4 separate regions of the Homo sapiens genome follow, and regions 2, 3 and 4 are each linked to region 1. The links come from fine-mapping of genetic effects on gene expression. A gene starts in region 1. Each other region holds a variant in brackets. All regions are shown on one strand. Distances are between the middles of the regions.

Region 1 (8,103 bases):
TAGGGCCCAGAGCCTCAGATTCCAAGGTCCAATGACCTCTTTGCCAGACCACAGCATCACCCAAGGTGTCTGTATGACATGTTACCAACCCCAAGACACATTACAATTTAACCAACGTCCAAACGTGGGCTACCGAAGGGAGAAACTGTTAAGACTCTCGGGGAAGGAGGGAGGCTAAGAGCTGGGGAAGCTGGGAAAGGGAAGGCTTCACTGAGGAGGTGCACTAAGTCCCAGGAGTACATAACAGGAAATTATGGAAATATTTCAGTAGGTAGTCTTGGAAAGAAAGACCTGACAGATAAAATTTTCTCTAGAGAAAAGAAATAAGTTAGATTTAAAAGACCAGAAGAAGGCTTTGTTTGAACATTCCTTGATTATATGCAATTTAGTCCTTTTGTTGTCACCTGAGTTTCTAACACTTGGTAATATTTTTAATTCCCTCATCTATTCTGTCTCCCTATGAGACAGGACTCTCTGCAGAGACCACATCCAGTTTAGTGGTTAAGAATGGAGTCTCTGGACTCAGATTGCCTAAATTCAAATCCTTGCTTTACCACTTAATAGCTGTGTGACCTTGGATAAATTCCTTCACTAATCTGTACCTCTGTAAAACTGACCTAATATCACCACCCATTTCAGGAGGTTTTGTGAGGATTAAATGTGTATAAGCGGTCACAACTTATTAATGGGTTTTTAATCACTTTATAATGTGTCCTTTTTATATATAAAGAATAGAAATTACCCAAGTACATATACTGCATGTAGTAACAAATATTGTTTTGCAAAAATTTTGTTACATATGTGTGCATAAATGTCTTAAATCATAATGTAAAATTTGTTTCTTAGTGGTTTTTTTAAAAATGTGAGACACTGAATACATAAAATAAGGCTTAGAACAATGCCCAGCACACAGTAAGCACCTAGTGCTGTAACTGTCATCGTTGCTGTTATGTACCTATTAAATGTTCGTAGAGTTATATAAACTAACATGAAACCACTTTGGAAAATATATCTGATAGTAACATAAGTTAAAGGCAAAAAGCCCTTCTCTTTGTCTCTCATATCCACACACAATCAGAGCCCTGCTCAGGCACCAGTTTGTTGCTTGGCCCACTAGCTACGTGTTGCATTGAACTGAAGAGTCCACAGACTGACCTAACACTCTGTCATGCTCTGTCAATCTCTGCAGAGAAATGGAGGCTTGGTGCCAGAGCGAATTTATTTTTACCTGGTTGGGGTGCTGGGGTGGGGGAGGCAAGAGTCAAGCCCATGGGGAGCTGACGGAAGCAAGTCAGTCATACAAAAAACCATTTGCTCCCCCAGAGGCAGGTAGGCTCAAATGTGCCACAGACAGGGCCAGACCGACAGACACCTGAGCCTCTGGGCAGGCTGAATCACTTCCCCCTCCCTATCCTCACCAGACACTGCATAAGACAGCATTTCAGCCCGCCCGCCCGTTACAGGTGTAGCTCTTATCAGGAAAAGCTGGGAGCTGCCTGATACAAAAAGGGGCTGACTGCACAACAAAAGATTACCTGAAGGGCTCATTTAAATGACAAGCTCACCTAAACGTTTTAAATAGTATTTAAATTCCAAAACCCTGATTTACAGAAAAACCTGGAAAATGTGCTCACCAGTAAGGAAATCTGGAGGTCCATCCCCGACATTGTGTGACCTTGAATTAAGCACTTCATCTTTATGTTTGTCTTCCTCTGTTTAAAAGAGAGAGAGAGAGAGAGAGATAAGAACACCTACCTCAGAGGACCATGGTAAAAATTAAAGATAGAATACGGTGAACTGCCTTGCATCGGATGTGCTGGCACTGGCCAATGCACAATAAACGCCTGTCCCTTCTAGACTAAAAATGAACACTTAATTGTGGTAAACTATTAATAAGATTCACCGGCCAACTGTCCTATGAAAAAGTCAGAGGCACTGTAGTCTCTTCGTAGCTCTCGTTCTCTCCAGCACAACAGCCCATGCTAGGAAGTCTAGAAAAGCAGTAACTTATCTCATTCCTTAAATTAAACAGAGGTTTCTAAATGCTTTGGTACTGTGGGGACCCAAATTATCCCTTGATACTGCCCCCCTATTATCCACTATTAAGCTTTAAAAAGGCGAGAGATTAAATATTGTGCCCACATTTTACAGTCATTCGCGTTCCCGTTTCAAATTAAAGGGAGGAAAACGCGTTAAAATTAGGCCTCCGACCTTCAGACCAGCCTGTGGGCTTTTTTAAGTCATAAAACTCGCGGAGGTGGAAGGCCCCGGGGAGGAAGAGGGGTGCATTCTAGAGCTTTCGGGCCGACCCCAATTTCTCGTTGGCGACGAATGCTAACCACGTGTCGCCATTTTGTGTTCAGGAAACATGGCGGCCGCCCCAAGGGTAAGGAACAGGGGAGGCGGAGTAGCGCCACGTTAGCCGCTTTCCCTGAGAGATTGTGAAGCACGTTGCGCACGGGGCCCTTTCTGGTCTGGCTTAGCCCAAGGAGGAAGGGGAAAAGGCAGAAATCACAACTCATAGGCCAGCGTCTTGAGCGACACTTCCTCAGCGGGAAGAACCGGCAAAAAAGGCCTTCCAAGATGGCGGGCCCTGACGGGGCCGCCCCCCTTGAGCCTGGCGCAGTGGCTGCGCCCATGGGCCCGAAAAGCAGCCGCGGGAGCCCAGGCCGCGCGGGGAAAGCCGCAGAAACGTCCTGAAGCCCTGGCCGGCAGCCCCTGAACAAACGAGGCCTCCACAGGCGTACACTATTGTTTCTAATGTCGGAAAAGGGTGCCGCGGTGGAAACGACACAAGGGCAGGAGGTGGGGTTTCTGTGGCTTTAACCGAAAGAAACTTGCGAAACGCAAACAAAGCATTATGTAAATGGACGCCATTCTTTTTAGGACCACGTTTCTAGCACGCCCCACAAACAGCAGAGCCGCGATTCGGCAGGCGGCCGTGAGTGGGTTTCGGTCTTTCTGCCCACCGGCCGCCGCCGGGGAGCAGGAGCTGGGGTGGGGGATCCATGCAGGGCGCCCGGACGCCGGGGACGAAAGGGCCCCACGTGCCCGCCCGCGCGCACCCGCTCCGCAGGCCTCGCCTCGCCGCCCCTCCCCCCCGGAAGAGGGCTGCTGCCCCTCCCATCCCCCCACACCCTCGCGCACGCGCTCTGGTCACCTCACGCGCATGTTTTAAACCCGCGGCGTCCCGGCTTGTGCCTGCAGTTTCCGCCGGGGCTGCCCATGTCGTTCCGCGCACGAGCCCCTCATGTAGGGCAGGAAAATAATGTCTATCCCGCATACACAGCACTAGTATTTTCAGTCACCCGCCAGTGCCGTTAGAGTTAATAAAATACGTCATCATTTTAAAACTTTGCCGGACTCACAGCTTCCGCCCATCGTGCGCTTCATTTTCACTACTGCAGTGTCAGAAGGTTTTTTTTTTAAGGACCATGTAAGGGTTGGCGCAATCTTGTGACCTAAAAAAGACGGGTCCTCATTTTTTTTCAAGGGGTCCTGCGCAGCAAGCACTTCCGGGGTCAGAGGGTACGCGGGGTTGAAAGCGGGCTTCCCGCCCCGCCCAGACCGCCGAGGCTGCCGCCGGAGTCGCCACCGCCGCGCCCTCGCCCACCCGCCCGCCCGCCGCTCCCGGCCCCGCTCGCCCCCTCCGCCGCCGCCGCCCGCCCCTGCGACTACGCTGCGGCCTCCCGCCCGCTCCCGCTCGCTCCCGCGGCCCTCGCTCGCCTCGCGCCGGCAGTTTTGGGCCTACACCTCCCCTCCCCCCGCCAGCCGCCAAAGACTTGACCACGTAACGAGCCCAACTCCCCCGAACGCCGCCCGCCGCTCGCCATGGATGCCGGTGTGACTGAAAGTGGACTAAATGTGACTCTCACCATTCGGCTTCTTATGCACGGAAAGGAAGTAGGAAGCATCATTGGGAAGAAAGGGGAGTCGGTTAAGAGGATCCGCGAGGAGAGTGGCGCGCGGATCAACATCTCGGAGGGGAATTGTCCGGAGAGAATCATCACTCTGACCGGCCCCACCAATGCCATCTTTAAGGCTTTCGCTATGATCATCGACAAGCTGGAGGAAGATATCAACAGCTCCATGACCAACAGTACCGCGGCCAGCAGGCCCCCGGTCACCCTGAGGCTGGTGGTGCCGGCCACCCAGTGCGGCTCCCTGATTGGGAAAGGCGGGTGTAAGATCAAAGAGATCCGCGAGAGTACGGGGGCGCAGGTCCAGGTGGCGGGGGATATGCTGCCCAACTCCACCGAGCGGGCCATCACCATCGCTGGCGTGCCGCAGTCTGTCACCGAGTGTGTCAAGCAGATTTGCCTGGTCATGCTGGAGACGCTCTCCCAGTCTCCGCAAGGGAGAGTCATGACCATTCCGTACCAGCCCATGCCGGCCAGCTCCCCAGTCATCTGCGCGGGCGGCCAAGATCGGTGCAGCGACGCTGCGGGCTACCCCCATGCCACCCATGACCTGGAGGGACCACCTCTAGATGCCTACTCGATTCAAGGACAACACACCATTTCTCCGCTCGATCTGGCCAAGCTGAACCAGGTGGCAAGACAACAGTCTCACTTTGCCATGATGCACGGCGGGACCGGATTCGCCGGAATTGACTCCAGCTCTCCAGAGGTGAAAGGCTATTGGGCAAGTTTGGATGCATCTACTCAAACCACCCATGAACTCACCATTCCAAATAACTTAATTGGCTGCATAATCGGGCGCCAAGGCGCCAACATTAATGAGATCCGCCAGATGTCCGGGGCCCAGATCAAAATTGCCAACCCAGTGGAAGGCTCCTCTGGTAGGCAGGTTACTATCACTGGCTCTGCTGCCAGTATTAGTCTGGCCCAGTATCTAATCAATGCCAGGCTTTCCTCTGAGAAGGGCATGGGGTGCAGCTAGAACAGTGTAGGTTCCCTCAATAACCCCTTTCTGCTGTTCTCCCATGATCCAACTGTGTAATTTCTGGTCAGTGATTCCAGGTTTTAAATAATTTGTAAGTGTTCAGTTTCTACACAACTTTATCATCCGCTAAGAATTTAAAAATCACATTCTCTGTTCAGCTGTTAATGCTGGGATCCATATTTAGTTTTATAAGCTTTTCCCTGTTTTTAGTTTTGTTTTGGGTTTTTTGGCTCATGAATTTTATTTCTGTTTGTCGATAAGAAATGTAAGAGTGGAATGTTAATAAATTTCAGTTTAGTTCTGTAATGTCAAGAATTTAAGAATTAAAAAACGGATTGGTTAAAAAATGCTTCATATTTGAAAAAGCTGGGAATTGCTGTCTTAAACTCTTTGTTGGTGCCTTTTTTTTCCCTCCCCTTTTAGCCTGAGGTGTTTGGAGGGAGGAGGGAGAAGGGTGGGCCCGTCCTTGGTATTCTCTCAAGCTCTTCTCACCTTATCGGTAAGATTCCATTCCCTCTGTGCCCCAACAAAGGAACATGGCAGGCTGGGCCTGCTTTGGGATGTTTCCAGGGACAGAGAGGTTCAAGTTCCAGAGAGAGGCCTCTGCCCATTTCTCTGGTAGAAACAAGGTTTTCTCGAGGGGAAAAGGTGTGCCCACTCAGTAGGACCTCTAAATGGCAGAGCGTCCTCTCCATCTAACCAGTTCCCCCACCCCCACCTCACAGGATAAACTTAGGAACAAAAAAATATTCTGGGGTGGGAGGAGCCTGGGGAAGGGGTGTGGGGGCAGGGAAAGGAAAGGAAGGGAGGGCAGTGGGCCGGGGAGGATTGGGGGCTTGGAGGAGGGCAACAGCTGCCGGGTGGTGGTGGGACTAGAGGGGTCTTGGTTGGGCAGCAGGGGTGGGAAGGGGGGAGGGGACGGTACCAACGAGACGCACGTGTCAAGCATGCACCTGTGGCAAGCAGCCTGTCAGAGGATGTTATTACACCTGCCAAGTGGTGTATCCAGAAACAAAAGAGGCCCAGTTTCCAATTCTTCAGCTGTGTGCAATGTTTAGAGAATCCCTATACCAGGAAATAATCCTGCCTAAATGGGTCAGTCTTCACAAGGCGGGAATGTAGACTGATGCACTGACTATAACCTAAGAATGATCTGAGTGTTAAAGATGCAGATTCCTCTGTCCCACCCCAAAACTAATCAGCTGTATTTTTAACAAACACCCCAAAGGAGTCTTAGATTTGAATGCCACTGATTGTCTTCAGTGGAGGAGGAAGATCCCGCTGTGAAGGCCGTAGCACCCTCACGCCCACGTCAGCCAATAGGACTATCCCTGACCTGATGAGAGAAGGAAAACTGCTAGGCAAAGGCAACATTAGAAACAATAGTATGAGAAAATAGAGCCTGAGATGAGGGAAAGAAGAAACAATAGTATCAGACAATAGACCAGTAGGTGCCAAAGTGGGTAGTTCAAACCCCAGGCACTATGGGAGATCACTCATGGCAAAGAGAAGTTCCTGTGGGAGGGGAGTATTATCCACAGTAAATATTCGTTGAGGCTTATTATGTGGTCACGCAGGGTTAGGCAAGCAGTCACTGAAAGGAGCCCAAATTCTGGAGTTAGACTTGCTTTCAAATTTGAGTTCTGCCTCCTATTCATGGCTTTGGACAAATTAATCTCTATAAATGAAGATGTTAAAATTAACACCTTCTGGGCTTGTGAAAATAAAATGAAAGCATGTATATAAAACAGAACAGTGCTTAGAACACAGTAAATTTCAGTGTACTCGATTATAAAAAGCCAAAAGGCCCATTTCTGGGGGCTGAGGGTTGGCCACAAAATCTGGGCAGAGAAGACAGATGATTAAAAGGTAGGAAACAAAGCAATGTGTATTAAATGAGTTGGACTGAGAGGCCAAGACAGGTGGGGAGGGAGGGGGACCTAGTGAAGACCCAGAAGTGGGTACCATGCCTTCTGGGAACAATAAGCACAAATCCAAATCAAGGCAAGAGGGGATATAAGCTTGAACCCTCAAACACCAAGCCAAATAGTCTTTGAAGAATCCCTGAAATGCTGGGTGAAGCAGTTTGAATGCCCTATGAAAAGCAGGTCTTAATACCAAAAATTAGGCCAGGTGCAGTGGCTCATGCCTGTAATACCAACACTGGGAGGCCGAGGTGGGCAGATCACTTGAGCTCAGGAGTTTGAGACCAACCTGGGCAACATGGTGAAACCTCGTCTCTACAAAAAAAAAAAAAAAAGAAAAAAAAATTAGACAAGTGTGGTGGTGTGCACCTGTAGTTCCAGCTACTTGGGAGGCTAAAGTGGGAGGATTGCCCTGCACCTGGGAGGTCGAGGCTGCAGTGGCCTGTGATCATACCAATGCACTCAGCCTGAGCGACAGAGCAAGACCCTGTCTCAAAAAAGAAAAAAGAAAGAAAAGTAGGCCTCAGACTTTCCTGAACCTCCTCCCCACTGCATCTTATACTGGGCAAAGCTGGCAATAATTTGTAAAATAATGATTTAGGCAGCAAGGCATAGGACGAATTGCTACTTGGAAAGATGAAAAGCAAGAATAGCAGTTGGCAAACTACCTCAAGGAAGAAGCAGGTTCTAATATAGGCTGGCAAGTGGTATCAATAGGAATGCAAGGAAAGGAACTAGGCAATGGCAGAGATATTGAAACTGGGTGTGGAGGCCAGAGGAAGATGTAAAAAGGGGGAGCAATGAATTCAGGCACGGTGATAGAAGTATATGCAGACAGAAATAGTCAACAAGTAGCTAGAAATAAGACTGAGGTGAAGTCAAAGCTGCATAGGAACAGAGGTAAATGAGGGGAAGGGACTAGAGATGGAGTTTTGGGGTATTTCGTTGGGTTGAAGGACCTAGTTTTCTTATTCACTGGGTACCCTAGTACCTGTCACCATACCTGACACATAGCAGGGACTCAGTAAATATTTGTAAAGTGTATATGGAAGAGGCAGCCAGTGAGGACAGAAGGAATAGTTGAAGCAGCAGGAGAGAAATCAGGAGAGTGCCCTTGAGAGAAGTCAAGGAGGAACAGTCCAGGGCTGACGGAGTGACAATAATGCTGTAAGGAGGTTATTTAACAGATTTGATTGAGCAGCTACTGTGGGCAAAGTACTCTGAACTACATCGTGCTGTTGTGGTGCGCTTGGAAGATGTCTAGTAGCTGATT
Region 2 (8,103 bases), 74 kb before region 1:
TCAAGTAGGGGCACGGGAGATACACAAGTGGAAAAGCTCTAAGGACGTGATAAGGGCACAAGAGTCCAGGTGTGTGTACAGGTGGGAAGCACAAGAGAGGGAGCCACAAAGTCTACAGGGGAGGGGCCAGGAAGGTCTCCTGAACAGCTGACGTGGGGTGATTCACAGTTGGATAGATAGGCAGTAGGGATTTGCGTGGCAAGGGTGGAGGGCACAAGGAACTGCATGTGCAAAGGCCTGGAGCTGAGAGAGTGAGCAAGCAGCGTTGGGGGGAACTGAAAGCAGTTCAAGCTGATGACAATGAATACAGGGGAGTGGCAGACAACGAGGCCACAAAGGTTGTGTTTCATGATAAGGAATTTGGACTTGATCCTGCAGGCAGTGGTGAAGCTCACAAGAGAAGTATTTAACAGGGAAATTAAATGATCAAACTTTCCAGTAACGTTTTTCACCACAACACTCCCATCTCTTTTAGTTAACTCCCACCCAGGCTGCAGTCTGAACATGAGAGCTGCTTCCTCCAGGAAGTGCTCCCTGAACACCCTCAGACTCAGCCCTCAGTCAAAACTTCTAGGGGTTCCCAAGCACCTCTGCCATCTTTCCCCACTGCACTGGGTCCTAATGACCTGTGCCCTGTCCTTTTCTCTCCTCCTTCATATGCTGTGAGTGCTGGAGGTCAGGACAGTATCTGTTATGTCCTATGTTGTATTCCCACAGCCTGCACAGAGCCTGGTATGGTAAGTACTCGATATGTATTTACTTAATGAAAAACACATTATCCTTAGCAAACTAATGCAGGAACAGAAAACCAACTACCACATGTTCTCACTTACAAGTGGGAGCTAAATGATGAGAACTCATGAACACAGAGGGGAGCAATACACACTGGGACCTCCTTGAGGGTGGAGGGTGGGGGGTGTGGGAAAAGGGAAAGGAGCAAAAAAAATAACTCTTGGGTACTAGGCTTAGTACCTGAGTGATGAAATAATCTGTACAACAAACCCCTGTGACACGAGTTTAACTATATAACAAACTTGCACATGTACCCCTGAACCTAAATTAAAAGTTAAAAAAAAAAAGTGTGAGAAGATAACTCTTGTGGTTTCCAACCAGAACTGTAGAGTACAGGTTGAAAACAGGGGGCAGGGGGCCAGGGAGAAGACCCTTGCAATCGTTTAGGTGAGAAGGGATGAGCGCCTGAGCTGAGGCAGTGGTGGTGGGGCTGGAGAGCAGGGAGAGATTGGGAAAATGTTTAGGAGGCAGAACTGATAGGCCAGGTGAGCAGATGAGGGAAGGGAGGGAGCCAGATAAGGGGAGGAGGACTCCTGGGATTCTGGCTTAAGCATTTGAGCAGATGATGGATTAACCAAGACTGTCTATTCTGGAAGAGGAAGCAATGTGTAGGGGAAGACGAAGAAACCAGTTTAGACATGCTGACTTTGACTTGCCTGTAAAGCATATAGGTGGAAAGGTCTCAGGTGGAACCACAAAACTGGAGCCCGGGACAGACATCTGGATTGAAGATAGAGATTTGGGAGCTGTCAGCCTGCAGGTGATGGTTAAAGACCAGGGAGGAAATAAGATCATCCAGGGAAAGGAGGAGGAGACGAAACAAGAAGAATGCCAACCTGTAAAGAGTGAGGGGAAGAGGAGCCACGGAGAGAAAGGGAGGCATGAGAGAGGGAGGAAAAGCAGGAGCTGAAAGCAGCATCACCGCTAAGGGAGAAGCAGCTTCGGGGGCTAGCAAACAGGGTCCAACAGTGTGAAGAAACAGAGCCTGCCCAGGCCTCCCTTTACAACTGAGGAAAATGAGGCCGAGGGAGGCTGATGGAGGGTGCTGGAGGCATGTGCTATTAGTACCCATGGTCGTATAGGCCATGGCTCTCAAATTATGATCCCTGGACTCCTGGGTCCCCAAGACCCTTCCCGGGGGATCCAAGAGATCAACATCATTTTTTTTTTTTTTTGAGATGAGTCTCGCTCTGTGGCCCAGGGTGGAGTGCAGTAGTGCAATCTCGGCTCACTGCAAGCTCCGCCTCCCGGGTTCATGCCATGCTCCTGCCTCAGCCTCCCGAGTAGCTGGGACTACAGGCACCCGCCACCACGCCCGGCTAATTTTTTGTATTTTTAGTAGAGACAGGGTTTTACCGTGTTCGCCAGAATGGTCTCAATCTCCCAACCTCATGATCCGCCCACCTCGGCCTCCCAAAGTGCTGGGATTACAGGCGTGAGCCACCGCGCCCGGCCAAGGTCAACATCATTTTTATAATAATACCAAGAGTTTTTCTGCAGCATTCACTTTGCGGACATTTGCACTGATGATGCAAAAGCAACAGTATTTGGTGCCTTCTAGAGCCTTAAGTCAATGAAGAGGCACCAAACTGCACCAGGAGTCACAGTCTTCACCCCCATGTACTTGCAGTTCAACAGAAAGGCAAACTTAATGTAAAAATGTCCATGATAGAGTAATAATTATTAATTTTATTAAAACTTATCCCTTGAATACATGTCTTATTAATACTCTGTACACAAAGCACTTCTGCTGAATACCTAAGTACTGGAAGCACTTACCTGATTGTTTGAATTACAAGCTGACTACTTGCTTTTTCATAGAACATCATTTTTATTAGGAAAAAAATGACTAACAAACTATGATTATTCAGACTTGGGTATTTGGCAAACATTTTCTCAAAAATGAATTAAGTGAACCTGTCACCTCATAGAAAACAACTGACAGTATTTGTTGCCAACTGTAAAATTTGAGCTGTCAAGTGAAGATTTAAAATTTTGGAAAATGTGTATCCATGCTGGTAGATACCTAAAGACTTCTTAACACCTCAAGACTTTTCTGATGAAATCAGTGGTAACACTGACAAATATGTTTTTGATATTATAGACTGAAATGTGCCTACATTTAGAAGATGTGAATAATTCACTGAACCATCATTTTCAAAATGACGAATGCATGATGTTACAAAATCAGGCATGAATAAAAGACCCATTCAAAGTGCAAGATAGAGCAATGAAGTTTAATATAGAAAAGTATGAGTTCACTGATATGGATTCAACTAATTTTTTACACACATTACAACTAATTTTTCAGAAACTGCCATTTGTCTAATTTTGATGACATAACAAAGAAGAGTATCCACCATGATCTAAAAAGGTTATTAAAATACTATTTTTTCCAACTCCAAATCTGTATGTAGCTGGATTTCCTTCATCTACTTCAATCAAAACAACATACACAACAGACTGAATACAAAAACAGATACGAGAATCCAACTATCTTCTATTAAGCCAAACATTAAAGAGAGTTGCAAAACTATAAAATGATACTACTATTATCTACATTTTTTTGTTGTTTTAGAGAAGACAGCTGTTTTTATAAAAAGTATGTTGGCCTGGTGCAGTGGCTCATGCCCGTAATCCCAGCACTTTGGGAGGCCAAGGTGGGTGGATCACTTGAAGTCTGGAGTTCAAGACCAGCCTGGCCAATACGGTGAAACCCCATCTCTACAAAAATTAGCCGGGTGTGGTGGTGAGCACCTGTAATCCCAGCTACTCAGGAGGCTGAGGCATGAGAATCACTTGAGCCTGGGAGGCGAAGACTACAGTGAGCTGCAATCGCACCACTGCACTCCAGCCTGGGCAAAAGAGTGAAACTCCGTCTCAAAACAAACAAACAAACAAACAAAAAAACAGTATGTTCACATGTAATGGATTCATTGTTGTTACTTTTAAATCATCAGTTTCTAATATGGCATTTTTCCAAAATACTAATTTTAATGTTTATCATATTTCAGACATGGTAAATATTGTTAAAACCACTAAATAAAAGTTATTTGGGGTTGTCTATAATTTTTAAGAGTGTA[G/A]AAGAGCATATCATTGGATTTGTCAATGATTTCTTGAATATAACACCCAAGGCACAGGCAACAAAAGAAAAAATAGATATATTGGACCTCATGAAAATTAAACACTTTTTTGCATCAAACAGCACTTTCAGCAGAGTAAAAAAGGTGATGCACAGAATGGGGGAAAATATTTGAAAAGCATATCTCTAGTATGGCTTAACATTGAGGATACATAGAGAAATTTAAATATTCCACAACAGAAAAACCAAACAACCCCATTCAAAAAAGGGCAAAGGAATTGAACAGACATTTCTCCAAAGAAGATATACAAGCACAATAAGCCCACAAAAAGATGCTAGAAATCATAAAAAGCATGGGGAAAAAAAAGGAGACATATGGGACTACATCAAACTTAAAAATTTCTGTGCAACAGAGGATACAATTAGGAGTGAAAAGGCAGCCGGGTGCAGTGGCTCACACCTGTAATCCTAACACTTTGGGAGGCTGAGGCAGACAAATCACTTGAGCCTAGGAGTTCAAGAACAGCCTGGGTAATATGGTGAAATCTCATCTCTACAAAAAATAAAAAATTAGCCAGATGTGGTGACATGTGTCTATAGTCCCAGCTATTTGGGAGGCTGAGGTGGGAGCATCCCTTGAGCCAGGAAGGTCGAGACTGCAGTGAGCCACATTCACGCCATTGTACTCCAGTGATAATAGAGCAAGACCTTGTCTCAAAAAAAAAAAAAAAAAAAAAAGAAAAAGAAAAAGAGTGAAAAGACAACCCACAGAATGGGAAAAAACATTTGCAAATCTTATATCTGAAAAGGATTTACTATCCAGAATATATTTTTAAAATTCCTACAACTCAACAACAAAGGGCAAATGCCTTCATTTTTAAAATGGGTAAAGGACTTTGAATAGTCTCCAAAGAAGGGACACAAATGGCCAACAATCATATGTAAAGATGCTCAACATCACTAATCATTAGAGAAATGCAAATCAAAACCACAAAGAATTATCACCTCACACCCATTAGGTTGGATACTATCAAAAATTTAAAAACAGACCCAACTATATGTGGCCTATGAAGATTAACTTCACATTTAAGAACACACATAGAATGAAAGTGAAAGGCTAGAAAAAGACATTTCAGGCAAATGGAAACCAAAGAGAGCAGGGGTAGCTATACTTAAAACAGACTAAGTAAAAACTGTAAAACAAGACAAAGAACATCATTACATAATGACAGAGGATCAATTTATCAAGACAATATAACAACTGTAAATATACAGCTGACCCTTGAACAACACGGGTTTGAACTGCACAGGTCCACTTATATGCAGATTTTTTCCAACCAAATGAGGATCAAAAATACAGTACTCACAGGATGGGAAACCCATGTACATGGAGGGCCAACTTTTCATATACAGAGGTTTCGCAGGGCAACTGTGGGACTTGAATGGTGCAGCTTTTGTTACACACAGAGGTACTGGAAGCAATCCCACACCAAGGGACAACTGTAAATACATCCAACATCAAAGCTTCTAGATACATAAGGCAAATATCAATACATCTAGAGAGAGAGAGATTATAATACAATAATAGTAGGGGACTTTAGGCCAGGTGTGGTGGCTCACACCTGTAACCCCAGCACTTTGGGAGGCTGACGTGGGCAGATCACTGGAACTCAAGGGTTCAAGACCAGCCTGGCCAACATGGCGAAATCACATCTCTACTAAAAATACAAAAATTAGCTGGACATGGTGGCTCCCACCTGTAATCTCAGCTACTCAGGAGGCTGAGGGAGGAGAATCACTCGAACCCGGGAGGAGGAGGTTTCAGTGAGCCGAGATTTTGCCACTGCACTCCAGCCTGGGTGACAAAGCAGGACTCCATTTCCATAATAATAATAATAGTAGGAGACTTCAATAGTCCACTTTCAATAAAGCCAGAAAATCAAAAAGGAAACATCAAACTTGAACTACACTTTAGACCAAAGGAAACTAACAGACATAAAGAACATTCCATCCAACAGCAGCAGAAAATACATTCTTCCCAAGTGCACATGGAACATTCTTGAGGACAACTCACATGTTAGGCCACAAAACGAGTCTTAATAAACTTTAGAAGACTGAAATCATACCAAGTATCTTTTCTGACCACAATGGTATGAAACTAGAAATAATAAAAAGAATTTTGGAAAATTTCACAAATACAAAGAAATTGAACAACATGCTCGTGAACAATAGCCAGACAAGGACACTACAAGAAAAGAAAATTATAGACCAATGGGACTACATCAGCATAGATACAAAAATCCTCAATAAGGCCAGGTGCAATGTGGCTCACACCTGTAATACCAGCACTTTAAAAGACTGAGACAGGAGGATTACTTGAGCCCAGGAGTTTAAGGCCTGCAGTAAACCAAGATTATGCCACTGCACTCCAGCCTGGGTGACAAAGCAAGACCAGCAAACCAAATTCAACAACACATTAAAAAGATCATCCAGGCCAGGCTCATGTCTGTAATCCCAGCACTTTGGGAGGCGAAGGCAGGCAGACTTGAGGTCAGGAGTTTGAGAGCAGCTTGGCCAACATGGTGAAGACCCATCTCTACTGAAAATACAAAAACTAGCCAGGCATGGTGGCAAATGCCTGTAATCCCAGCTACTCAGGAGGCTGAGGCATGAGAATTGCTTGAACCTACGAGGCAGAGGTTGCAGTGAGCTGAGATCACACCATTGTCCTCCAGCCTGGACAACAAGGCAACAGAGTGAAACTCTGTCCCCACCAAGGGAGAAAAAAAAAAAAGATAATCCATTATGATCAATTGGGATTTATTCCTGGGATGCAAGGATGGTTCAACATATACAAATCAATAAATATGATACACCACATTAACAGGAGGAAGGACAAAAGCCCTATGATCATCTCAATTTTTTTTTTACACGGAGTCTGGCTCTGTCACCCAGGCTGCAGTGCAGTGGCGTGATCTCAGATCACTGCAAGCTCCGCCTCCCGGGTTCATGCCATTCTCCTGCCTCAGCCTCCCAAGTAGCTGGGACTACAGGTGCCCACCACCATGCCTGGCTAATTTTTTTGTATTTTTAGTAGAGACAGGGTTTCACCATGTTAGCCAGGATGGTCTCCATCTCCTGATCTTGTGATCTGCCCACCTCAGCCTCCCAAAGTGCTGGGATTACAGGCGTGAGCCACCACGCCCAACCTGATCATCTCAATTGATGGAGAAAGGTATTCAACAAAATTAAACATCCTTTCATGATTAAAAACTCTCAATAAATTAGGCACAGAAGGAATGGACCTCAACACAGTAAGGGTCATGTACGATAAGCCCACAGCTAACATCATATTGAATAGTGAAAATTGAAAGTTTTTTTCGTAAGATTAGTAATAAGACAAGAATGCTTATTTCAGACACTTCTATTGAAAACAGTATTGGAAATCCTAGCCAGAACAATTAGTCAAGAGAAAGAAATAAAATTTGTCCAAATCGCAAAGGAAAAAGTTAAATTGTCTGTCTGTTGATGACATGATCTTTAGATAGACAATAGTAAAGACTCACCAAAAAACTGTTAGAACTGATAAACATATTCAGTAAAGTTGCAGGATACAAAATCAACATGCATTTGCTTGTCTGTTAGTATTTTTTTAAAAAAAAGAAACAAAATCAACATGCAAAATTCAGTAGTGTTTATATACAATAACAACGAACTATCAAAAAAATGAAGAAAACAATCTCATTTACAATAGCTATTTAAAAATACTTCGGAATAGGCTGGGCGCAGTGGCTCGCACCTGCAATCCCAGCACTTTGGGAGGCCAAGGTGGGAGGATCGCCTGAGCTCAGGAATTTGAGACCACACTGGGCAACATGGTGAAACCCCATCTCTACTAAAATACAAAAAATTAGCCAGGTGTCATAGTGCGTACCTGTAGTCCCGGCTACTCAGGAGGCTGAGGCACGAGAATCACTTGATCCCAGGAGGCGGAGGTTGCAGTGAGTCGAGATCACGCCACTCCAGCTTGGGCTACAGAGTGAGACTCCACCTCAAAAATAAATAAATAAATAAAATAAAATAAAATAAAATAAAATAAATGAATAAAAAATACTTAGGAATAAATTTAATCAAGGAAATGAAAGATCTGTACATGGAAAACACTGTTGAAACACTGACGAAAGAAACTGAAGAGGACACACACAAAACATGGAAAGATATGCTGTGTC
Region 3 (8,103 bases), 110 kb before region 1:
GGCCTGCCGTCCTCTCGGTTTTCATGAGTGTTCTGCAGTCCTCCTTACTCTTCCTCGTCCTCCCTGGTCCCTTTTCTTGGCCCCACACTGACTACTCTACTCAGGCCAAACCTTCACCCTTCCTCACTTCTCCACCTCCTGCTTGCAGAAGATGGCTTGCGTCCTGCTTGGCAGAGAAATGGCGAGCTCTCACTCCACCCTATCCCAGGTTTTCTTCACTTCTCATCCCTTTTCAGGGACTCTGTGCCTGGCCAGGCTAATCCTTCCACCTGAGGCCCCCTCCAACCTCCTCAGTAGCCTCTTTCCATCAGCCATTCCCACCCTCTTCTGGGAATCTTTCCAGAGTCAAATCTCTGGCCACTCCTCAGACTAAGGCAACCTGCCCAGTAGTATGCTGGTAGATGTTTAATTAACAATGAGCTCTCTGGGGAAAATGCATGCATATATACACATACATACATTTATGATAAATTTTATTGACATAAAGGATGGCTAATAATTTACAAATAATAAAAAATATATACTACTCTTTACTGTAAATTGCATATGGCCAGTTGGGTCTTACAGGATGCTTTCATTGATTTTTGCCAACCTGCTGAATCTATAACCAGCCTACAGTTGTAACTGATAAATGAATGTAGTTCCAACATGAATGTTAACTGATATTTTTGTTTGTACCAACTAGCAAGAAAAAAGTGAAGCCAGAAAGACAGATGTTGGAACTTCACTTGTTGTTTTTTTTTTACAGAATGGGTTGCCCAGAACTTGGAGTGCAGTGGAATGTTCATAGCTCACTGTAACCACAAACGCCTGGGCTCAAGAGATCCTCCTGCCTCAGATAGTGCACACCACGCCCAGCTAACTTTTTTATTTTTTGTAGAGAACTGGTTTAGTTATATTGCCCAGGCTGGTCTTGGACTCCTGGCCTCGAGCAATCCTCCCGCCTGGACCTCCCAAAGTGCTGGGATCACAGGCAAGAGCCACTGCACCTGGCCAGAACTTTACTTGTTTGTCAATGGTGTTAGCAATTTCTTTACTGAAGCAGAGAATAGTTTTTGAATACTGGAAGAATATTTCCTTCATTTTTCTGTGCCATTCACAATGCAATGGCCATTGGCAAAACATACATTTAAGTTTAATGTGCATTATTAGCATTTTCTCCATAACCTTCTTAAGTCTAGATAGTCAACCAAATAATGAATAAAGCCCTGATTTGTGGTGGTTGCTGCCCACTTCTGTGGTGTAAATATTCCCACTGTGGCTGATTTCAATCCACCAATATGATGTCACTGAATGCAGACTTGGGGAAAAAGCACAGTAACACAACATTATATAGTATTTCCACAGATGTAATAGATGTACATAATCTTAAAAGAATAAAGAATAATAAAATATAAAATTATTGCCAGGCATGGTGGCTCATGCCTGTAATCCCAACACTTTGGGAGACCGAGGCGGGCAGATCACCTGACGTCAGGAGTTCGAGACCAGCCTGACCAACAAGGAGAAACTCTGTCTCTAATAACAATACAAAATTAGCCAGGCATGGTGGTGCATGCCTGTTTTCCCAGCTACTCAGGAGGCTGAGGCAGGAGAATCCCTTGGACCTGGGAGGCGGAGGTTGCAATGAGCTGAGATCGTGCCATTGCACTCCAGCCTGAGCAACAAGAGTGAAACTCCATCTCAAAAAAAAAAAAATTATTAGGAAGTGATGGTTTTTGAAAATTTATTATTTTTGCCTTAATATAATTCATTTAATTGTAAGTTTATATAATTTAATTTATAATTTAATTTTTCATAATAGCTGGGTTTAACCATTGGTTCATGAAATTCCTGAAGATTTAACAATCAGCTCATAGGAACTGGTATGATCTGAGCACACCTGGATCTGAACCCCAAGCCCAGCTCTTCCTTGAGCAGGGCCCTCAAAAGGCTCTCCAAAACCTGATGGCCCTGCCCAATGTATATTTTTCAGATCTATCAGCGAAACTGAACTCATTTTCTTTCTCTCCAGTCTGCTCCTCTGTGGGCTGCCATGTTGGTGGAGGGCTTCGCCATTCACCCTGGGGTGGCAGGAGTTGTGGATGAGAACTCTGGACAGGAAGAAGGCTGGGATCAGAGGATGGGGATTTTGGAATTGTTTAGAGCAGAGGTGAAATAGTTTTGGGTAATGACAATGTTGGGTGGGTGAAGAGTCCCTGGGCTGAGGAGGGCACAGAACCGTAAGGCTAGGCTGTTCCTGGAGGTCGGGGTATGGGCTGATGGCATGTTCACACTCCTGTTACATCTTCTGTCAACTAGCTTCCCTGCAACAAGCTGTGTCTGACAGTCCTCCAGAGCTCCTGGGGCAGGGGTCCCAGAGCCGACTGTGGGTCACACGCGACAAACTCCCACACCCATATTCCTCTGGGATTGCTCCAGGCTAAGGTTGGATTCTCAGGCAGGAGGAAGGAGGATCAGCCTTGGCCAGAGGCACAGAAAGCTGCAAAGCCCCCAGCCCCTCCCTTGAAGGGCAGAGCTCCTTTTGAGGACAGAGAAGATCTGGAGGGGATGTGGAGGCAGGTGTTTAACAGAGGACTTGAATGTATCTGGGATTTCCATGGCAGTGATGCCTGGACGGAGGCCAGAGTGTCCTAGGTGAAGTGGGGGATTCTGAATGGAGCCCACAGACAGCAAGAGCCCAGCCTGCAACCCACCTTTCCTTTCACGTCACCTGACTCCCTGTCCGCACTGCTGCCCCTCGGCCTCCCTGCCGGTGCTGCTCCTCCCCCGAGAAGCTTCCCTGCCTCCTCCCATGTACTTCAGGGAACTGGTAAGTTTGGAAAGCACCCAGAATTACTTGAGGAAAAGACTGTAGCAAGTACAATTTGAATTTGCCAAGAGACTTTGCCACCAAATTCACTTGCCTAGAGAGAGAGGCGAAGTCCATGGGTTTCTCCCTGTGGTTCTGTGGCTTCACCGGGAAAATGTGGGCCTTGCTGAGCTATGGAGGGGAAAGGAAAGGAGCGTGAAGGAGACAGGAGGCAGAAGCTCCTCACAGTGCCCAGCACGCAGTAGGGGCCGAGATGATGTGCTGAATGATGGGCCTCATGGCCATGTGAGTGGAAGGCCAGGCAGAGCTGCTTGTTTAATATCTCCTACTCTTTCCCCCGTGGTCAGTGAATTTGCTTTTGGTTTTGAATTTGCTTTGGCTGAACCAGGGACAATTTCTACATGGCCTTGAGGCCACAGGCATATGTAGTCAACTGCACACCTCAGGGTGCAAGGGGTTACACCTGTTCCTTGCTCAAAAGTCATGGGAAGTTGCTAAACAGACCAAAAGAAGAACCAGCACGCTTACTGCTCTCCGTCCTCCCCTTCCCCACCCCACCCCCAGCTGTTAGCTCACAGAGGGTCAAAACAGGCAAGATAAAATCTGTCCAACTCACAGCTTCAAAGGAACACAAGTTAGACATGTGACCCAACCGCACCCAGCCTTGTCCCTCCCAGGTGCATGGCCCTGGAAGGCCCAACCCTCCGGCCACGTGGTCCGTGTAGAGGCCAGGTGGGCAAAGCCTTCCGTTCCAGACCCAGTGCTGCCCTCCCATGAGATCCCAATCTGATTTTGGTCTTCTTGTAGTTCTCCTTGGAAGCCAGGCCCAGCCCCACACTGCCTCCTCCTCACGCTCACCTGGCTCCCTCCAATCCGATCTGGGGCAGGAGGCGATGCAGACCGCAGTCTTCACCGCAACCTCGACCCTGAGGGCCCAGAGTCAGTGCTGGAGCCACCTACCAGGAGTCACTTCCATAGCCCTTGAGGCTGAATGAGAGCCCTCGGGTTCTTGGATAGCAGAGAACACAACCCAGACATGGCTCTGGATATGAAACAAATCCTTTCTGAACCTGACACCAGACTTTTCCCCAGAGGTGATTTTTTAATTATTTTTTGAATGCTTTCCAGATTTGACTGAATGAATGGGTGACAATGACCCTAAGTCATGAGCCTTCAAGGCCTGTACACTTGTGGGTTAAGAAAGCCCTTTCTCAGCCTGGCATGGCTGGCCCCCTCCCTTTCCCCCTCCAGGCACAGAGTGTCCTGGTAAGGTATGATGGCACAATACAGCCTCTCCACGCCTTATTTCCACCATCTCCTGTCACTGTGCCCCCATCAAAGCACACACAGAGAGAGTCCCAAATCAGACCAACCTATAGGAACAGAGTGCCCCTGACAAAACACACACACTCATACACCGAGGAGACACAAA[C/T]TGGGCAAAAATGGGACAGGCAAGGTGACTCATGCCTGTAATTCCAGCACTTTGGGAAGCCGCGGCAGGTGGATCGCCTGAGGTCAGGAGTTCGAGACCAGCCTGGCCAACATGGTGAAACCCCGTCTCTACTAAAAATACAAAACTTGGCCAGGCATGGTGGCGCGCACCTGTAGTCCCAGCTACTCGGGAGGCTGAGGCAGGAGAATCACTTGAACATGGGAGGAGGAGGTTGCACCACTGCACTCCAGCCTGGGCTACAGAGTGAGACTCTGTAAAAAAAAATAAAAAATAAAAAGGAAAAAAATTGGGCAAAAATGTAGAAATTCAATTTTACTGAACTTTTTTAAAAAATTATGGGAATTCCCAGTGTCTCAAAAGAAAATGACAACCTCCAGACAAGCACATTTAAGTAAACAACATAAAGGCACTGACAGCCACTGTGGGTGGGAAGTCACTGGCAATGGGAGCCCTGCCCCCTCAGGGTTCCGTCATTGTTTTGCAGGTGCGATTCCTGCTTCCCCCACCATTCTGTAAGTTGTGTAAGATGCTGTCGAAAGATCACGGGGCTGAAAGGCAGGAACCTCATGTTCCAAACCCAAGACTGGCCCGGTATCTGCGTGACCTTGGGCGAGGTCCTCTGCATCTCTGAACTATCGTGTCTCCATCTGTAAAATGAAGGTTGACCTTCCTGGATAATTTCGTCTTGGGTTTCTACTGTACTCTCACTCTACCTGGCCCATTACCACCTAGGAGGGGCCTAATAAATACAAATGAAAAGAAGTGGCCCCAAATGATCTTTTAGTCAATATAACCCCAATTCTGGTTTCAGCTAAGATTTGGATACAGAAAGTACCATTTCCCCACTAGTTCAATGGGAAAGTTGGGTGGAATGCATCTTTGGAGGGTCACAAAGTGGAAATTAGTAACTCCAGAGGGGGGAGTGAAGAAAAGGAGGTGACAAAGTAGCCAGTGGGACCTGTTGGTGTCACCCTGAGTTGTGTCATTCCAGGCTGTCTGGCCTGTCCTCTAGGTCATGAGCCCCAGAAGTGGGTCCATGCCCTTGGGTGGTGAATGACAAGTGTGGGTATGGATCCCCTAGACACTAAATTCAAACTCAGACATCCCCTACCCTGCCCTAGCCCATAAAGGAAGCAGGCTGGGGCCCTATGGGCTTCCTTTGCACAAATGCAACTGGCCAGGTGCCTGTTTCTGGCTACAACCCTCTGCAGGGCGGGTGTGCTGGCAGTCTTGGGGCTTAAGGCCAGGCAGTGATCCCAGCATTCTGAGAAATGCTTGCTCCAACCCCCAGAGAAGCTTCTTCCCCAGGGGGCTCTGTACTCTCCCAACACTCTTTCCACCCCTCCAAGCCTCCAGGGGAGTCTCCTTGGGGAAAGTTTTCCCAGGCTGGTTCTGAGCGTGGTCACACACTCATCCCTGGATAGTTGCCCCATAGAGGGGACACAACCCGGAGGGCCAGGGAGCTCAGTCTGAGAATGGGACCAGCACTGCCTCACCCACTAGGCCACCTTAGGAAAACAACTTTGGGCCCCATTTTCCCCTTCACAAAATGAAAACGACAGGCCCAGCCCATCAAGCAGTTATGCGGATTAAAGGAGATAACGCATAACAGCCTTAGGCCAAACCCAGAGCTACCTCCCGTTCACCCTGATGATTACGCAGAGCTACAAAAGCCCTCACAGATTACACCAACGACAAGCCACAGCAAGGCATGACAAGGTTAAGAAAGCCCTTTCCCAGCCTGACACGGGTGAGGGTGTCCTGGTGAGGCAGTGACTGGGAAAGGCCCCGAACACCGGAAGCAAACCTCGCGCCCTCCAAGGTGGTAGCAGCCCGTGGACAGGAGAGCCGGGCTGCCTCAGAGGTCATGGAACCCTCCCCTTCATTGCACAACTGAGGAAACTCCCAGACGATGGGTGACTTGTCAGAGGCCACACGGCAGGTCTGTGCCATTTGGACAAGAGGCCATATCTTCATATTTCTTCTCTGTGTGGCCAGATTATTTCCTTAGATACTCATGTGTGTTTCAATGGTTGCATTTTTCCTCCTCCTCCCATTCCAAGAAGGTCTTGGACCTGTCCTCTTTTGGGTGTCCCTGTTGCAGGGGACGTGTTTTTTGTTTGTTTTTGTTTTTTTGAGACAAAGTCTCATTCTGTCACTAGGCTGGAGTGCAGTGGTGTGATCTCGGCTCACCGCAAGCTCCACCTCCTGGATTCAAGCGATTCTTCTGCCTCAGCCTCCTGAGTAGCTGGGACTACAGGTGCATGCCACCACACCCAGCTAATTTTTGTATTTTTAGTAGAGATGGGGTTTCACCATGTTGGCCAGGATGGTCTCAATCTCCTGACCTCATGATCCACCCGCCTCGGCCTCCCAAAGTGCTGGGATTATAGGTGTGAGCCACCACGCCCGGCCAGGGACGTTTGAGTTTCAGGACCAGGCAGAAGCCACCCCAGGCCCTTCTCTCCTTTGCCTCTTTGTTTCAGTGTCTGGGCTCCTTGTAGTCTCTGAGGGAAGAGTCTTCGGAGAAAATGAGAACAGAGAGGGGAGGAGGAACTGGGGAGTGGGAAGAGGGCAGAGGCCTGTACTATGTCCCTCTGGGAGGGGCAGGACACAGAGGTGGGGAGGCCAGCCCTGGACATGGGACCCCCCTCAAACTGGGCACAAAGGCCCCCAAAATGGCCTGGGGGCAGAGTCTCAGCCTCATGAGGCCCTTGAGAGTGACAGGCCCCTTGCCTGTCCACATTTCTGGGCAACCTCCTGGATTCTTGGGTGACCCTCACTGGATGGGGCCTAAAAATGACCAAGATGAAGTTTCCTCCTCCTCAGGCACCATGGGAGCTCAGAGTTGGAGCTGAGTTGATTTCAGGAGCGTTTCCTGCCACCTGGGTTGGTGGACTAAGCTCCACGCTCTCCATACGAGGCACTGCTCAGTCCCCTTCACCACATTGCTCTCTACAACACCATCACCCACTTGGAGGATGCTTTACACAGTGACTTCACGATCATCTTCTAGTACCTGAACAGGCCTAAATTGTGCCCATTTAATGGGTGAAAAAACTAGGGCTCAGAAAATAGAATGAGATTTCCCCCTGCCGCTGGCCTGCCCCAGAGAGCAGGGAGCCTCATTGTCGCTGGGTTCCACCACCTGGGCAGGCCTCCGAGGGAGAAACCAAGTCTGTACAGGGAGCACGTGGGCAGCCTGCCCTCCCCCATGGCCCCTTCAGTGACTTAGTAGGATGCAGCACCAGTCACAGCTTCTAGATGCTCACCTGACTCTGGCTGTGTGTCACCTTGAGTGGAAGCTAAAGATCTAAACACTGACAAAAATTCCTGCAGGTGATTGAGAAATCAAAAACAAAGAAAAGCAACTGGCCACCAAACAGATGAAAAAATCCGTAAACTCATTAGCAATGAATTAATGCCCACTAAAGCCACATTGTTATTATTGCTATTTCTCTTTTAAGTTGGCAAAGTCTTTTTCTCATTCCCTGCAATGCTATTTGTGGGAATATAAATTTATATGATTTTCAAGTGTACATGCACACACATACATACAAATGTGTATGTATGTGTATATTTATCTAAGAAGTCTCACAAATATTCACACCCTAAATACAACATGCTATCCTGGAATGTATCCCAGAACAGTAAAGGACATTCATGGAAAAAATGATGAAATCCCAAAATATCTGGAGTTTACTTAACAGTATCATACCAATGTTAGTTTATTAGTTTTGGCAAATGTACCCTGGTTAGGTAAGATAGGAACGTTAGAGGAAGCTGGATAAAAGATATATGGGAATTCTCTCTACTATCTTTTCAACTTTCTATAAAT
Region 4 (8,103 bases), 21 kb before region 1:
CATACAAAAACATTCAGAACACCTCTAAGGGCCAGGGACTAGCGCTACCCCTCAAGACTCTCTACTTGGCACATGAGTGCCCCCTAACGCTGTCAAAATTTAAGAGCCAGGTCAGAAACCTTGATGCCCACTCCTACATACCTTCGGATCCCACCATTCACACACATCCAGCCAGTCTTCCAGTACTTTTTGCTATGCCTCACTGACAGAGTCCCGTACTATATTCTACAGAATACTCTCTCCCCAAAATTCAGAGAGAAATTCCACAGATTCATGTTGAACAGAGTCCTGAACTCCTAAGGCTGCTGAGGCCAGCTCCTATGCCTGGTTCAGTGGGAGGAGGTAGCCTGAAGAGAGCTCACTCCCTTCACCCTGTCTGAAGGAAGCTCCAGGACTACTGCAGGCTTCTGTACATGCAACTTGTTTCAAAGATAAGGGAGTTGAACCTGACATATTTAAAAGAATGGATAGGCTCTTGGCAGCAGAAATTTAGGTGGGGGAAAAGTTAAGGTAGGATTTCTGGGGATTTCATTTTAAAGTAAAGAGCCCATAAAATACAGAGAAAGTAATATACACTCTCACTCAAATCCTTGTATGTCAACTATCTGATCCTTTCTATAATCCAAAAGCTGGTTCCAAACTAAAGAGGTAAGAATGCTAAAAGATGATTTAAGTAATCCCCAAGATTATTTATGACTCTAATCCTGAATTGCTTGCCCTGTTCCTTCTTACACTCTACTCACTATCCAGGTGCTCCAGGTTTATGATTTAATGATCCTGCTTCAGCCTTGTCTCATCTTATCCTTCAGGCCTTTTGCTTCCTTCCTTGCTTAGAATTCTACTCCGCTGTCAGTTATTCTGCCCTCAGCTACCTGAAGTTAATAATATGCCTACCCAGATTCTCAACCTTTATCCTCAGGACACATGCTCCCTTCATGAGCAAGTGTTTTGTGTCAGGCTTACCCTGGTTTCATGGATATGACTTAATCATTTTAGATGGTTCATCCAGGCAAACAAGGGAATTACCAAAGATGGACGAAATAGGAAGAATGACAATGAACCAAGGGCCAGTGTTTAAAACTCACCCTGACATCCTAAAGCACAGCTTCCTAGACCTCAGGTGCTGCCCCCAATACTCTATCCCCCTCCCTAGTGCCCCACCTCAAAGGTCCTTCTAGCCACTGCTGATAAGCTTTGACTAGGAATTCATGGTGAGCACAACATAAGCTTACAGTCTAGTGAAGGACACAGACAACAAAATAATTACAATACATATGATAATTAATGGCAATGCATGCAGAGTTGTAGGATCAAGGCTAATCAGGTGAAGTTATATGTATACTAAGCTATAACTTAGATGATGAATAGGAGATATCCAGGCAGTGGCAGAGCATGGGAGGAAGGGTGTTCTAGGCACAATGAAGAGCACACGCAAAGGCCTTGCAGCAAGAAAGCACATCTAAAGAGATGTCATGAGCTGGAGGATGGGAAGGTCAAGATAGGTGACTGATGCAGATGATGCTGGAGAGGCCAAAAGGGCCTAATAGGACAAAGAAAGTTGTTTTACTATTCACTTCACAAGTATTGTCAATAATGTGTCAGACATTGTCCTAGGTGCTAGGAATACAACAATGAATAAAACAAACAATATCAGCCAGGCACAGTGGCTCACACCTGTAATCCCAGCACTTTGGGAGGCCAAGGCAGGCGGAACGTTTGAGGTCAGGAGCTCAAGACCAGCCTGGCTAACATGGTGAAACCTTGTTCCTACTAAAAATACAAAACTTAAGCCAGGCATGGTGGCACACGTCTCTAATCCCAGCTACTGAGGAGGCTGAGGCACAAGAATCGCTTGAACCCAGGAGACAGACATTGCAGTAAGCCGAGATCGAACCACTGCACTCCAGCCTGGGCAACAGAGCCAGACTCCATCTCAAAACAAAACAAAACAAAACAAAAAAAAGGCCAGGTGCGGTGGGTGGCTCATGCCTGTAATCCCAGCACTTTGGGAGGTTGAGGCGGGTGGATCATGAGGTCAGGAGATCGAGATCATCCTGGCTAACACGGTGAAATCCCGTCTCTACTAAAAGTACAAAAAATTAGCGCCTGTAGTCCCAGCTACTCAGGAGGCTGAGGCAGAAGAATGGCATGAACCCAGGAGGCGGAGCTTGCAATGAGCCGAGATGGCGCTACTACACTCCAGCCTGGGTAACAGTGCAAGACACCATCTCAAAAAAAAAAAAAAAAAAAAAAAGACAATATTCCTGTTCTCTTTTAATTGGAGAAGACTATAAACAAATATGTAAATAAACCAGAAAATTATAATATATTGATAAGTGCGATCACAGAATTAAAATCAGGTGATGTTAATAAAAGCATATGGGTAGATACTTTAGAATCATTAGATAGTCAAGGGAAGACCTGTCTGAAGAGATAGCATTTAAAAGCAGGGGCAGGGTGCAGTGGCACAGAGACCAGCTGTGAGACCTCGTTTCTACAAAAAATTTTTTTAAAAATTAGCCAGGTGTGGTGGCGCATGCCTTTAGTCCCAGCTACTGGGGAGGCTGAGGCAGGAAGATCCCTTGAGCCCAGAGCGGTACAGTCAGTTATGATCACACCACTGCACTACAGCCTGGGTGACAGAACGAGGCTTTTGACTCAAAAAAAAAAAAAAAAAAAAAAAAAGAAAGAAAAAGAAAAGGAAGGAAGGAAAGAAAAGAAAAATCAGGTATCTCAATAAAATGAAGTCATTAAAAGCTCAATGGAGGCTGGGTGCAGTGGCTCACGCCTGTACTCTCAGAATTTCAGGAGGCTGAGGTGGGAAGATCACTTGAGGCCAGGAGGTCGAGACCAGCCTAACCAACATGGTGAAACCCCATCTCTACTAAAAATAACAAAAATTAGCTGGGCATGGTGGTGCACACCCATAATCCCAGCACTTTGGGAGGCTGAGGCAGGACAATCGCTTGAAACTGGGAGGCAGAGGTTGCATGAGCCGAAATCATGCTATTGCACTCAAGCCCAGGAGACAGAGACTCTGTCTCCAAAACACAAAGCAGTTCAATGGAAACATCACTAACATCATTTTTTTTTTTTGAGATGGAGTTTCGCTCTTGTTGCCCAGGCTGGAGTACAATGGCGCAATCTCAGCTCACTGCAACCTCCACCTCCCAGGTTCAAGTGATTCTCCTACCTCAGCCTCCCGAGTAGCTGGGATTACAGGTGCCTGCCACCACGCCCAGCTAATTTTTGTATTTTTAGTAGAGATGGGGTTTCACCATGTTGGCCAGGCTGGTCTCGAACTCCTGACCTCAGATGATCCACCTGCCTTGGCCTCCCTCCTAAAGTGCTGGGATTATAGGCATGAGCCACTGCGCCTGGCCTCACTGACATCTTTTTAAGCAGGAGAATTATCATTTAAGCAATCATTCTTACATTTTACTTTATTTTTTTTTTGAGACAAGGTCTCCCTCTGTCACCAAGGCTGGAGTGCAGTGGCATCATTACAGTTCGTTGCAGCTTCAACCTCCCAAGCTCAAATGATCCTCCCACTTCAGCCTCCCAAGTATCTGGGACCACAGATGTTCACCAGCACCACACTTGGCTAATTTGTTATTTTTTGTAGAGACATGGTCTCACTATGTTGCCTTGAACTCCTGGGCTCAAGCGATCCTCCCACCTCGGCCTCCCAAATTGCTGGGATTACAGGCATGAGCCACCACGCCTGGCCCATTCTTCCATTTTATGAAGATCACTCTGGCTGTAGTGTGGAGACTGGAATGGAGGTAGGGGTGAATAAAATTAAGACTGGAAGCAGTGATGATAATGGATTATATAAACTAAGATGATGATAATAACAACTAAGATTCACATAGCAATTAGTAGGTACCAATCTATTATTCTAAGCATCTTATATATATTAATTCACTTAATCCTCAGAAGTACTCTTTTATAAATTTAAAAACTAACGTACAGGGCAGTAGCAATGGAGAGGGAAAATGATTAGATTCAAGAAATACTGAGGAGGTAGGGAGGACAAGTCCTAGTGACTGGTTGTCAGACGTGGGAAGGGAAGGAAGGAATGATTAATCATTACTG[G/C]GTTTGGGGCTTTAGCCGCTGCATACTGTCTATAATGTATATGATTGGGCACTGGAGAAGGAGCAAGTGAGAAAAAGCAGGGGGCTGCAAGACATCCCAGTGGGGTTGTAAGCAATTGGATAATCTGGTCTAGAGATCTGGGCTGGAGATTTGGGAATCATCCACGTGTAGATGGTAACTGAAGCTGCCAAAGAGGTTGAGATCACCCAAAAACTGGAAATACCTTAATGTCTTCATAGAAAAATAGCCAAATAAAATACAGCATATCCATTCTATGAAATACTATCCAGCACCAAAAAGAATGAGATATGCCTGTTTGTACTAACATGGAATACTGTCAAAGCATGTTATTAAATCATAGAAGAAAATACCAGAATGATACATAAGATGTTATATCACTTGTATAGAGAATTAAATAAAACAAAAAATAATACTTTAAATTTTTTCTGGGTTCATACATGTGTAAATAAACACACAGGAAGAAGTATGGCAGGTACATTCCAAATCACCAATACATTACCTCTAGTGAATACAGAAATAACTGAAATGGGGAGACAGGAATAGCCAAAATATGATCTACAATGTTTTGGTATTTTAAAAATATCATTTATTATATTCTCTGTAAATTAAATAATTTTTCAAAAAGATTGGGCAGGAGGAGAAGCTTACAAAGGTCATCTTTTGCTTCAGATACTAAATTCTCTCTGTCCTTCCCATCCTCCACTGGCCTTGAGGTTCACGTATTCTGGCTTCTCATCTGTCTACCTCTGAAATGTTAACACCAAGCCCCCTAAGTCCACACTCTATCCCAAATCCTTGGCTCCAGGCAAGCCCTGGTCACCAATCTCTGAGCCTGGGCTATAGCCCCAGGAGGAGAGATCAGACACCAAAATCGCAACACACACAGGGGAAATGGGTATAGATGCCAGCTTCAAGGACAGTGATCAAGTGGCCTTGCTGGCCTCCTGGCCAGCAGAAATTTCAAAGAGCAAAAGGTATCTGAAAGTATCTGGCCATTTGGAGGCAGCTCTGGAGTGCTGAGGAATGGGGCTGAAGTACAGTCAGGCAAAGTCAGGGGTGAAGTGGTAAGGAGTGGGTTGAAGAAAGAGCTAGTTTCACTTGTAAAGATTCCAAATGAAGTGCTGCAATCTTATGGAAACCAGGTTTACAGAAAAAGGAGGCGGCAAGCTGCATTCTGTGAGTCTGGCTGGAGAACGGGGGTTTCTAGGGGTATCTAGAGGAGTCACTTCCAAAGCACCAATTCCAAAAGGCACATTATGTAAAGGTTTAGTAGCTAGAGCAGCAGCAGGAAGCTAGAGATGTGAATAGAAAGGAGGTAAGGAAGATCTACAAATGAGGAAAGATGAAGGCAAGTTAAAGCCTTTCCTTCAGCCAGGCACAGTGGCTCATGCCTGTAATCCCAACACTTTGGGAGGCCAAGGCGGGCGGATCACCTGACTCAGGTCGGGAGTTCGAGACCAGCCTGACCAACATGGAGAAAACGCGTCTCTACTAAAAAAAAAAAAAAAATAACAAAATTAGCCAGTCGTGGTGGCACATGCCTATAATCCCAGCTACTCAGGAGGTTGAGGCAGGAGAATCACTTGAACCCAGGAGGCGGAGGTTGCAGTGAGCAGAGATTGTGCCATTGCACTCCAGCCTGGGCAACAAGAGCAAAACTCTTGTCTCAAAAAAAAAAAAAAAAAAAAAAAGCCTTTCCTTCGTCAGTAAACCAAAGGCAGAGATCATGGGCAGCTTTCTGGTGATTGTACCCTTAAGTTTCAACTTTCTATAGATGAAAGACAATGTATTTGGTCATGTTTTCCTGGTTACCCAAAAAATGACACAGCCCAGGCCTTACCCAACAGCTGATTCACCATCAATTAATCTGTATCACAGCCTGCTGAGCCTCACACCTCACACAGTCACACACTAGACAGCTCTGGGGGAAAAAAACAACCCAAGGTGAGCTGTCAAAGTCCTCTTCGTAACCTGACCTCGCCCTCTGGGGTAGGTTTCATTTCAAAACTGAAAGGGACTGAAGGGCTGGGGAAATCCAAAGATCAACAGAGCCAGGAACAGGTGGTTCCCACAGAAGCATCCCAGGTTGGAACTCAAAACAGAAACCAGACCACTGATAAGACATGGTTTATGATGTCTGTCTCCAAGCCTTCGGATGCCATTTATATGTTTTTGATATTTACAATAGGGCATGACCACATTTATCCAACTCCTGACTACTAAAAATCTAATTCTCCAAGTGCTCAAGCAACTTCCTGGTTTTATTACATTTTAGAGCTTCGGGGTAGCTCAATAACTGAGATACCAGGGAACTTGCGAATTCTTTAGCCCTTCAAATGGGCCACAAATAATGAATTTTATCTCTTCTTCCTTCTTCATCTCCCCACAAAGGCTTGGCAAAATTCCTGTCTCACTAAAAAGTTTCTAAGTTGTTCATAATGGCCCTCTCAATGGAGCAATATTCAATACACAAAAGTCTAGTTCATCAAAGGAGTCAGGTTATTTGCTTGAGGTTCATCTGTAACTAGCTATATGAGCTTGGACAAGTCACTTCACCTTTCTGAGTTCTATAAAGTAAGGAGGTTGGAAAAAAAAAGAAAGGGAAGCAATAAAACAACCTTGAACAGAAAAAAGACTTTAAGTTTTTAAGTCTAAAAGGCTCATCAAGTGCCAACAAGTGTTATTTTTAAAAGGCATACACCTCAGCCTGGCCAACACGGCGAAACCTCATCTCTACTAAAAATACAAAAATGAGCCAGGCGTGGTGGCACGCATCTGTAATCCCAGCTACTCGGGAGGCTGAAGCAGAAGAATCGCTTGAACCCAGGAGGCAGAAGTTGCAGTGAGCTGGGATCGTGCCATTGCACTCCAGACTGGGTAACATGAGCAAGACTCCATCTCAAAAAAAAAAAAAAAAAAAAAAAAGACATACCAGAAGCATACCACAGGAAACTCTAAGCATAAATAAAAATTCACAAACTTCCAGAACAAGAGAACAGATTATTACTTACAAGGAAAAAAAATCCCATTGGACTTCTCATCTGTATCACCAGAAACTCAAAACACTGGAAAGCTACTTAGACTTTGTCGAGACTAGGACTAGTATTCCAAGAATTCTAAACCTAACCACAATATCATTCATACACGAAGGTTAAAAAGAAATTGGACATAAAAAGACTTTGAAAGTACCACTCATGCCCCCCTTCTAAGAAAATCACTCAAAGAAATGTCCTACTTGGCTGGAAGTGGTGGCTCACGCCTGTAATCCCACCACTTTGGGAGGTCAAGGCGGGCGATCATGAGGTCAGTAGGTCGAGACCAGCCTAACAGTGCAAAATCCTGTCTCTACTAAAAAAATAAAATACAAAAATTAGCTGGGCACAGTGGCGCACGCCTGTAGGAGGCTGAGGCAGGAGAATCGCTTGAACCCGGGAGGCGGAGGCTGCAGTGAGCCGAGATTGTGCCATTGCACTCCAGCCTGGGTGACAGAGTGAGACTCCGTATCAAAAAAAAAAAAAAAAAAAAAAAAAGGAAATGTCCCAGGCAATTAACATTTAACTGTAACAAAGCCAGGAAAGACAAACTATATAAAAAACATGTTTCCCCTCCCCAACAAAAACCTTTTAATGAGTTTGGACCAGATGACTTCGAATGGCCTTTCCAAGTATAAACAGAAACTGCCCTGTACACCACAGTCCCTGGCAGTCTGGGTTTGTGAGTTGTTCATCACCTAGTGGCCTGATGAAGTAAATGCAGTTTGTCAAGTGCCCGGATAAACTTCCAGCCATTTTGTGAGCTCTGATGGCGTATGCAGCAGGGCAGCAGCCTGACCTCCTAATGATTACAAGAGTAGGAGACTGCAAACCCTCCAAACTCACAGACAATTGTAAAGACTTAGCTCACCATCAATTCATTCTTCAAGGAGGAAAGGAAAGCATACTCACCTTGTAACTAAATAATCCTAAGTGAAGCACAGATTTGTCA

The links.
Region 2: its variant is fine-mapped to the expression of PCBP1-AS1 in whole blood (INTERVAL, PIP 0.97).
Region 3: its variant is fine-mapped to the expression of PCBP1-AS1 in fetal neocortex (Walker 2019, PIP 0.91).
Region 4: its variant is fine-mapped to the expression of PCBP1-AS1 in whole blood (TOPMed, PIP above 0.99).

What each region holds. Positions count from the first base shown.
Region 1 is chr2:70,083,913-70,092,015 of GRCh38, forward strand. PCBP1-AS1 (PCBP1 antisense RNA 1) reads right to left here and starts at 3,103. Exons shown (of 11, transcript NR_033872.1): 1 at 3,066-3,103; 2 at 1,635-1,712. It overlaps PCBP1 (poly(rC) binding protein 1), which reads left to right and starts at 3,565. Exons shown (of 1, transcript NM_006196.4): 1 at 3,565-5,291. The coding sequence starts at 3,832. The coding sequence ends at 4,902. It also overlaps a transcript of ASPRV1 not described here. RefSeq lists enhancers at 2,162-2,301, 2,442-2,531, 2,572-2,781, 3,987-4,631, 4,703-4,869 and silencers at 2,992-3,141, 3,592-3,651, 5,678-5,727, 5,818-5,907.
Region 2 is chr2:70,010,207-70,018,309 of GRCh38, forward strand. All of the region lies in intron 7 of PCBP1-AS1 (PCBP1 antisense RNA 1), which reads right to left. It also overlaps a transcript of ASPRV1 not described here. Among named protein-coding and RNA genes, the nearest start is that of ASPRV1, 53 kb to the left of the region's middle. RefSeq lists an enhancer at 346-415. The variant G/A (reference allele first, on the strand shown) is at 3,876.
Region 3 is chr2:69,972,653-69,980,755 of GRCh38, forward strand. The region is part of intron 9 of PCBP1-AS1 (PCBP1 antisense RNA 1); the gene reads right to left. It also overlaps a transcript of ASPRV1 not described here. Among named protein-coding and RNA genes, the nearest start is that of ASPRV1, 15 kb to the left of the region's middle. RefSeq lists enhancers at 1-378, 3,083-3,594, 3,595-4,105. The variant C/T (reference allele first, on the strand shown) is at 4,245.
Region 4 is chr2:70,063,160-70,071,262 of GRCh38, forward strand. All of the region lies in intron 4 of PCBP1-AS1 (PCBP1 antisense RNA 1), which reads right to left. It also overlaps a transcript of ASPRV1 not described here. Among named protein-coding and RNA genes, the nearest start is that of PCBP1-AS1, 20 kb to the right of the region's middle. RefSeq lists enhancers at 6,172-6,251, 7,698-7,992, 7,930-7,999. The variant G/C (reference allele first, on the strand shown) is at 4,099.